Linked DNA regions of Homo sapiens: regions 1 and 2 are each linked to region 3. Evidence: fine-mapped expression QTL. A gene starts in region 3. Each other region holds a variant in brackets. All regions are shown on one strand. Distances are from middle to middle. Region 1 has its middle 120 kb from the start of LPAR1. Region 2 has its middle 110 kb from the start of MIR7702. Region 3 holds the start of LPAR1 (lysophosphatidic acid receptor 1).

Region 1 (2,760 bases), 120 kb after region 3:
CTCAAGCAATCCACCTACCTTGGCCTCCCAAAGTGCTGGGATTACACTTTGGGAGCCACCATGCCCAGTCTCTATGACTATTTTCTAACAAAATTTAAATTATAGAATTTTTTATTAAAAATTAAAAATTTATAATTTTCATAATAATTGGTTATTATATCTTCTGTTAGTGAGAAAAATAATTTAAATATCTGACAACAGGGGAATAACTAAAAAAACTGTCCATTCTGTGTAATATAATAATTAAAATATACTTAAAGTAAATGATAACATTAAAAATGTTTGTGTTATAATGTATTAAAATGCACATTTAAGAATATTTCATGGACCTCATGTTATTCTGTTTTCTCATGCTTAAACAAGATGTTCATTCAGACTTTATTTTTGCCTACAATCAGAATATGTAGCTTATTTTCATTCTTCTTCCATTTATTTCCATCCTGATTAAATCTCTATCTCAGAAAGACTAATGCACAGAGACTTTTAGTGTAACTCCAGGCCTCAGACTATAATAGAAAATTCGGTGCAGTCTAAAGATTTATTTTGTTCAGATATACTACCATGGAAGCCTTCCCTGTACCCTCAATATTCTTTTTCTTTCCTGACATGTAACTTCTTTACCTGAAGCAAACACTATGCAACTGTAGTAGTAAGAGGAGGAGGAGAAAGGAGGAGGTAGAGGAGGAAGAAGGAGGCAGAGGAGGAGGAAGGAGGCGGAGGAGGAGGGAGGAGGAGGAAGAGGAAGGAGGAGGAGGAGGAAGTAGGAAGAGAAAGAAGGAGGTGGAGGTGGAGGAGGAGGGAGGAGGAGGAGGAAGGAGGAGGAGGAGGAAGGAGGAGGAAGCAGGAGGAGGAGGAAGGAGGAGGAGGAGGAAGGAGGAGGAGGAAGGAGGAGGAGGAAGGAGGAGGAGGAGGAAGGAGGAGGAAGAAGGAAAGGAAAGGAAAAAGGAAAGAGAGAAAGAAATCTGAGTATCTGATGGGGAATAAAAGTTTGAGAGGGAGGAAAGCATATTTGACACTCTTACAAAAGAATTCACATATATGAGGTCAGGAGGGAAACTGACCTTTTTCTGGCCAGTAAATCTTTTGTTTTTCAGAGTTAAGGCCAGATAGTGGAAAATCAAAATATCTCTCTGCTTTATTTTCCAGCTTGCAGTACTCAATGGCATTAGTAAGGAAGTCTGTATAGGTTATAATCTTTTAGTTTCAATCCAGCCTCTGTGTCATTGCATCTGGTAGAAGTTAGTTCTATTTTCTGAAACATGCTCTCCTATTATCCATAGTTTGCATGATATTTATTAATTTAGTTTTATCTGGTTTTAGGGTCCTTATCTAGTTTTCTATACCATTAAAACTCCAATGGAATACTAGGAAAGGATATATCACACACTGAGTTTTAAAAGCAAATTTGGTAGCACCAACTCTAAGTAAGCATTGTTAAAATAAACAGTTGCCATGATCTGGGAGTGTTTAAAACATTTTGACCTCAGATTACTGCTCTAAATTAGTTGCTGAGAGTATCTGATTGTAAATAGGTTTTTATATTTCTTTGAAAATTCAAAGCATATCACTTTGTTTAATTATATAATTTCTTTTCATAAAAACCTGTTTGC[A/C]GTTCTGCTACTCATATTCATTTCTCCATTTGTCTTCCACTAGACAGATGGTCCCAAGGAGAACTTAATTGAGATGATTGGAGAAGCAGGTAATGTAAAAAGAGAAAAATAATTTTGTTTTTCTTGTGGGTTTAAAATGATGACACCAGCTGAGTTTGATTAATTTGCTTCAAGGACAAAAAGTTCATTGAAAACAGCAGAGATGGCTTCTGGGTGTAGACAAATGGAAATGGCAGCCAACAATGCATTAATACAATTTCAGGTTTATTTACCTACAGAAAGCTCAGAGGTTGGGAACTGCATGCAAAACTGCAAGCCACCAAAAACACCACAGAAAAATGAAACAATGACAGCAGCACACCAAGCGGTTTTCATTAAATATAAAACCATGAGTGCAATTTAATTGGGATTTCCTTCCAGGGCCAGCAATGAGGCCTCTTCCCCTGTCACAGCTGTGTCTTGCTGTGGCTTATGTGTGAACAGCTACATGCTGAGGGTCTTGCAGGCACACTTTACATCAAAGCTTTAAGTCAAGCTACTCCAGTGACTTTAAAGCAATTTAAATAAACACCCATCAGGGGAAAGAGGAAAAGCTGTGGTTGAGAAAAATGCAGTGTTTGGAACAATGAGAAGGGGCAGATATTACAGAGAACCACCTCATCCATCCCACATGACAGGGCCAGGGATGTGACTTTCCCAAGTTTCTCAGAACCAGGCTGTGGTGAACACAGCAATGCATGACCCAGGTCACCTTTCAAGAAAGGACTTGCTGCCCAGCTATGGGGAATGTGGTCATTGGTGAGCCTCCAGCTGACACCTCCTTCAGGGTCAGCCTCAGCTGCCTAGAGTTGCTTTGCCCAAGGTCTTACCCTTCTCAGGGAAACCTCAGATTGGCCATTCAATGACCAAGGAAGAGGGGAGTATAAAGGCTCAGCCATTAGTGTACACAGTATCATTCCGGGTATCACAATAAAATAAAACATAGAAAAATGTATGAAGTTGAGAAATAAAAGTAGAGATTAACTACTACCAGGTGACAGAATTAATACATGAAGCACATTCTATAAAATCCTGTACACTAGATAGCAGTAGGCTACAAATTTGAGCTTAATAAGAGTTGTGGCCAGGCATGGTGGCTCACGTCTGCAAT
Region 2 (2,760 bases), 130 kb after region 3:
CTAGCTGTACTTAAAAAGCAGCAGTGAACAGAAAGCAAAATTAACCCAGTATATTACAAACCAAGAAATGATGACAAGAAGGTAACAGCTATACTGCTGGAAGACTGGAAAGGCATCTTCAGGTAAGTTCAGTGGATCCTGAACTACTCTGTAGCCTTCATCCAAATCCTGTCCAAAAAGGAAGCTTCAGTACCTTCTGTTTTCATATCAGGCTTGATAAGTGTGTTTTGTCAATTATAATCAAAGGCTGGCCTTGACATTAGAAAATGTTATTTTTCAAACCAAAAAGAACCTGCAAAGCCCGTTCTTTGTTGTACTTCCTCATCCTCCATAATTATGCCCTTTCACCTCCGTTTTTTTTCTTTTTTCTTCTTCTCCTTTTACTGCAGGATTTATAAAATCTCTGAAACTTGTTGTTTGCAGATGTAGGTCCCAAGTGCCCTGTCATTTACTTCCTGTCCAAGCACTGAGCAGATGGAATTACACAAGTTCGGCTGTATGAAACCACCCTCTAATGCCTTCGTTAAACTCCAGGATTTTAGAGTCTGTCCAGTTTCTGGCAGGGACCTTTCCAAACTTCCACCCCCAAAGCTGTAAATTACTACCTCATTAAACTCAATTGTAAATGATTAGGTGTCTGGAATGTACTTTCCTCTCCCTGCAGCCTCCTTGGAGAAATTACTACATTGCAGGCCTCCCTACTTAACTCAACACATTAGTCAAGCAATGCAGGGTTTGAGTAGCTCACTCAGGAGGAGGTTTTATTTTTGTTAGGGTATTAAAACTCTATTATCATTTAGTTCCAAAAGCGGAAGATTTGTGATCTTCCACTTCCCATTGAGCAATCAGTCTTTTAGCAAGAGAAAGCTGTAATCAACAGGACTTTTTCAAGAATTCAGTTTTCCTCCTGCCACACAGGCAGTTGGAACTACAGAACTTTTGTTTTTTCTGAACATCAGTGAGATGATTTAACATTTTTTAAAGGCTGCAATTGCTGCCGTTAATTTCCATAGGTAAAGATCATCTGGGAAATATTTAAACGTTTTTTTGAAACAAAGAGCAACAAAAGGTAACTCAAGTTTTCAATACCTGTTCACCTAATTCTGATTTTTCGATGAAGTTTAA[T/TA]AAAAAAAAAAAAACTTGAAGAATCTGGAAAGGTCATGGGGAAAGGGTTGGAGAGAGAGAAAGGAGAGGAGGGGCTGTCACATTAAATAAATAATCTAGCCTAAGTTCCCAGCCTAGCTGCCATCATTTTAGCAGAAAAGGTAAAACTAATATTCCCCGAGGGACAAAAGCTCAGAAGGTCAGTTCTCTTTCTTATGCAGGCTTTTACCTCTTTATTTAATTCACTGGCTTAGAGTCTTAAGATTTTCATAATGCTTATTTTTGGGCTTCTCTTGCCACTTGTTTCACTATAGATTGACTAGAGTCAATTAGTTGTGCTTCACTGTGTCTCTGGAATATAGGTAAAGATAGTGACTTGCGTGGAGAAAGAAAATGAGGGCTATGAGCAAAATGGTTTTGCTATGATCAAACAAGTAGTAGCAGTACAGTAAGTGTTGAAGTAGAGAGTTCTCACCATCTTTGAAGAAGATTTTCAGAAAGATACAAGGGAATGGAGCATCATTAATTCCTAACTCAGCCTATGAATTTGTTGGTGGGTATTGCAGATGATCATTAAAGAGATTCCTTTATATCTGGGCATGGAAGATAAGGAATGGACTAATAGCTTAGGTATCCATTTTTCTACATTCATTGTATGTGGAACAAGAAATAGTTCAGATGAACATTGCTTGCCAGGGTGCTCTTTAAATGGGATCATTGGGTATAACTATAATTGGGTTAATTGGAATAAGGTATAACTTTGTCTTGGTTCCTGGCCTTGTACCTTGGAATAGATGGGATTTTAGGAAAGAGGTAAAGAAGCTGTTTCCCCAAGGAAACAAAGGCGAATGGTATTACCCAGGTGATAAGGTGTGATACGGAGAAGGGAGAGTACAGGCTCCTCCTTTGTGCCGACAACACAGCACAGCTTTGATTTGGTGAAAACTGATGGAATTGCAGTATCTCTCAGGCAACCTGAGGGTCTGCGGATTTGGAAAATCTTTTAGCATTGTCATCAGTGTTGTCATGGTAGATACCAGGTGCACTGATGCTCAGGAGACTTCATCAATGTCAGACTTTCAGAAGGGTAGGCAGGATGGAAGAATGTGAGCTAAAGAAAAGACACCAAACAACCAAAGATGACTTGGTTATTTGAAAGATTCAAAAATACTTCATTGTAGGCAATTCATTCCTTGACTAAGTTTTAATTCATGTTAAATTTATCACTTAAAAGCCTATTAGAGAGTAGCACCAGCAGAATGGCAGACTAGAAGGTGCCAATCTTCATCTCCCCCACAAAAACAACTAATAACCATATACCAATGAAATTGTGGAGAGAGCTCGGGAGTACAGCAAAGAGGTAGCAGAAACTCAGTGAAGCACAAACACCAAAGATGGCTGTGTAGAAAACACCTTGCTTGCACTACTCCATTCTTCAGTTGGGATCAGCTCAGAGCCAGAAGGGATTTCTTCCAAGGGGAAAAGGTAAGCAGGAGGATCCCAGTGGCCCTCATCACCACGCAGACACCTGCACGCTTCAACACCCTGCAGTTTTTGCCAGTGCTGAGCCCAACTAAGGGAGCCAATGCTGTGCCCCGCCCCTGATTGCCTGGGTAGCCATAGTACCTCTCCATTTCTGGGGTCTTGCTGTTATTT
Region 3 (2,760 bases):
TGTGTATTTTAATGATGTTTAGTTTGGTTCAAATAACCATACCTCTAAAATACACCCTTTTTCCTTGGGACCCACTCTTCTATCCGGCAAGGGAATAACTTCTTAAAAAACTTCGCATTTTCCAAGTGTACAGTCTCCCCTTAACCAGAACTGCAGACTCTGAATCACAGACCTCTGGCTTACCAATTATGCTTAGCTGAGCAAACACACTTATGCAAATACGTGAAAAACAAACTGTTAGAGCCTGAAGGAATAGAGGATTTCGCTGTGATCATCAATATGTGATCATCACATTTTCAATATTTATGTTTACCAATATCTATCTAACCCCATAGGAAACGACGCGTCCATAGTGAAACAAGCCAGCACCCACATTTATGAAAAAATCCACGGATTTCAACAAAAATGAAGAGAGGAGAGCAGAAGCGGAGAGCCACAACCTCAGGCCCCAGACAGCAGGCAGCAGCAAGTCCTGAATGCCTTCACTCTTAACATTGCAAAGACCAAATGGCAGCAAAGAAAAACAAGAATAAACTTTAAATCCATTCACCACAAAGGAGTCCTACGCAAGTCAAAGGAGCCGTCGATTTCAAAACCATCAACTTTCAAAGCCAGGTCCCTCCCTTGCCTTACAACCTCCTGTTACTTGTTAAGCACGTTTGTTAGGCGGCTGGACAGAAACTTAGTTAAAAGTCCTCAGCCCGGTGGTGGGGGACAACCGAGTCGTCAGTGGGAAGCGAGAGGTGCGGAGCCCCAGGGGCGCAGGGACCCCTCGGAGGTGCAAGTCCAGCGGGACGAGGTTTTGGGAGAATTTCGAGGGCCCCTCGCAAGCCCTCCCGCGCACCCACCCCGACCCAGGTAACCGGAGGCCACCTACGTGTCACTGGGCGGGCCCCGGGGCGCACTGACCTGGCGCGGGACAGGAGGGCCGGCGGCCCGGGCGGCTGCGGCAACTTCCCTCCAGGGGCTCGGTCCGCCGCTGGGTGCGGGAGGCCAGGGGAGCCTCGCCTCCTGCAGGCCGGCTCGCAAGAACGCACGGCCACCCACCCGCGCCGCGGCCCACAGCGCGCACCCACACTCTCACTGGCACTCGCACGCGCGCCCCCAACCACAAAGCCCGTCCGCGGCGGGACAGTGTGAGCCCAGCGCGCCGTGTGGCGGGCCGAGCAGTCGCCGCGGCCTCTGGCTTCGCGCCCAGGGGGCGCCGTCCCCACACGCCGCGCCGGCCCCCTTACCTGCGCTCGCTGCCGCCGCGCGTCCCTCTCCTGCCGCCCCCGGGCTGGCTTCAGGCCGCGCGCCCAGTCCCGGCGGCCCCCGCCCCACCGCCAGCCGAGCCCGGCCCTCCGCCCGCCCCTCGGCAGTCGCCCAGAGCGGGGCCGCCCCCTGCGCCCACCCCGCCGGGGTCCCGTGCTCGGCCGGGCGGCGGGGAGGGCTCCGCGGCTCCGGGCCCTGGCCGCCCCAGATCCGGCCCGCGCTCCGCAGCGGGGCTGGAGACGGAGTCGCCACTCAGGGAGCGTCAGCCGCCAGTCGGCCCCTACTGCCCGGCTTTGGCGCGCTGGCAGGAGGAGGGGGCGCAGAGGGAGGGCCAGAGGAGCAGCGCCGACGCCAGCCTCCTCTCTTCCTCCGCCTTCCTTCTTTTCTGCTTGTTCCACGTAGCACAAGTCAGCAACACCCGAACCCCCAGAGTCCGCCCTCCCCGCTCCCAAGCTGGACCCCTTACCTGGTGTGGCGCCCCCAGCGCCCCTGACCTCTGCGCCCCCTCCTCCATTCATTGGCTCGACAGCCCACGGTGGTGGCAGGGCCGGGGCTGGGGGGTGGCCTTAGCCTCCCATTCATTATCTCAGCAGCCTCCCCCGCCCCGCCCCCGAGTCGACACACCCGCAGCGGGAGACCCGTGGCCGCCAGCTCGGGTCCCACCCCCGCCCCTCCTGCGCTTACCCCAGCGCCGGACAGCTGGCAGGACTCCGGTGGACGCCCCGGCACGGGGCATTTTCACGTTGTCGCTCTCCTCTTCCCACTCGAAAAGCTCTGGAAAACATCGCGGGGCCCGCAAAACCCCGGAAATGTGGCCTCTCTTTCGTGGCTCACTTTCTAAACTTTCCAGAAGGCGCAAAGTTTCTCCCAGCGCCGCCCTGCACTGGAGGCTGCGAAGAACGCAGAAGCGGCTTTGCTGCTAGGAAGGTGCATACGTTTCTAGTTCTGATTTTTCACTTCACTGGATCTGTAAACGAAAGCAAGTGTGTCTGCTCCCCTAGTTCTCCATATCCACGATTATAAATTTCTCTTCCGCTTTCCCAGTGTAGCTTTGCAAGTGTAAACTATCAATTTTAGTGAGAGTAATTAAGGGCGGGGACTGCACACCTGGAGGTGTGGGTGGGAGCGGCGCGGGACTAAGGCCTAGGGAACATTCTCAGGAGAGTGGCAGCCACAGGGATTCGCCCAGGTCTTATAACACACCCACTCGATGGGGTCTCCCTAGCCACGCCACCTCACAACACCCATCTCCCACTTCTGGCTTCCCAGGATTTCCGGAGTGATCACAATTATCGGCCTCTCGCTCCACAGCTAAGGCCACCGCATATCAAAAATAGCAGCGTGTGAGTAAAAGTTTCATGAGCCCTCGCCTTGAAATGGCACAGAGGACACAGCACACCAGCAGTAAGGCATGGGGACTCGGCAGGACTGATCTGATTGAGAGAAACGCAGGACAGCGAGGCGGGGCTATGTTGGTGGTGGCCACCAGGTAACCGTGGGCTTTGC

Evidence for each region. PIP is the estimated chance that this variant, and not a neighbour inherited with it, causes the effect.
Region 1: its variant is fine-mapped to the expression of LPAR1 in whole blood (INTERVAL, PIP above 0.99).
Region 2: its variant is fine-mapped to the expression of LPAR1 in monocytes (CEDAR, PIP 0.95).

What each region holds. Positions count from the first base shown.
Region 1 is chr9:111,152,108-111,154,867 of GRCh38, forward strand. No RefSeq gene overlaps it. Among named protein-coding and RNA genes, the nearest start is that of LPAR1, 120 kb to the left of the region's middle. The variant A/C (reference allele first, on the strand shown) is at 1,611.
Region 2 is chr9:111,163,465-111,166,224 of GRCh38, forward strand. No RefSeq gene overlaps it. Among named protein-coding and RNA genes, the nearest start is that of MIR7702, 110 kb to the right of the region's middle. RefSeq lists an enhancer at 1-2,301. The variant T/TA (reference allele first, on the strand shown) is at 1,126.
Region 3 is chr9:111,036,932-111,039,691 of GRCh38, forward strand. LPAR1 (lysophosphatidic acid receptor 1) reads right to left here and starts at 1,539. Exons shown (of 6, transcript NM_001351411.2): 1 at 1,236-1,539. LOC124902248 (a long non-coding RNA gene) reads left to right here. Exons shown (of 2, transcript XR_007061732.1): 1 at 1-858; 2 at 2,524-2,760. RefSeq lists a silencer at 969-1,308.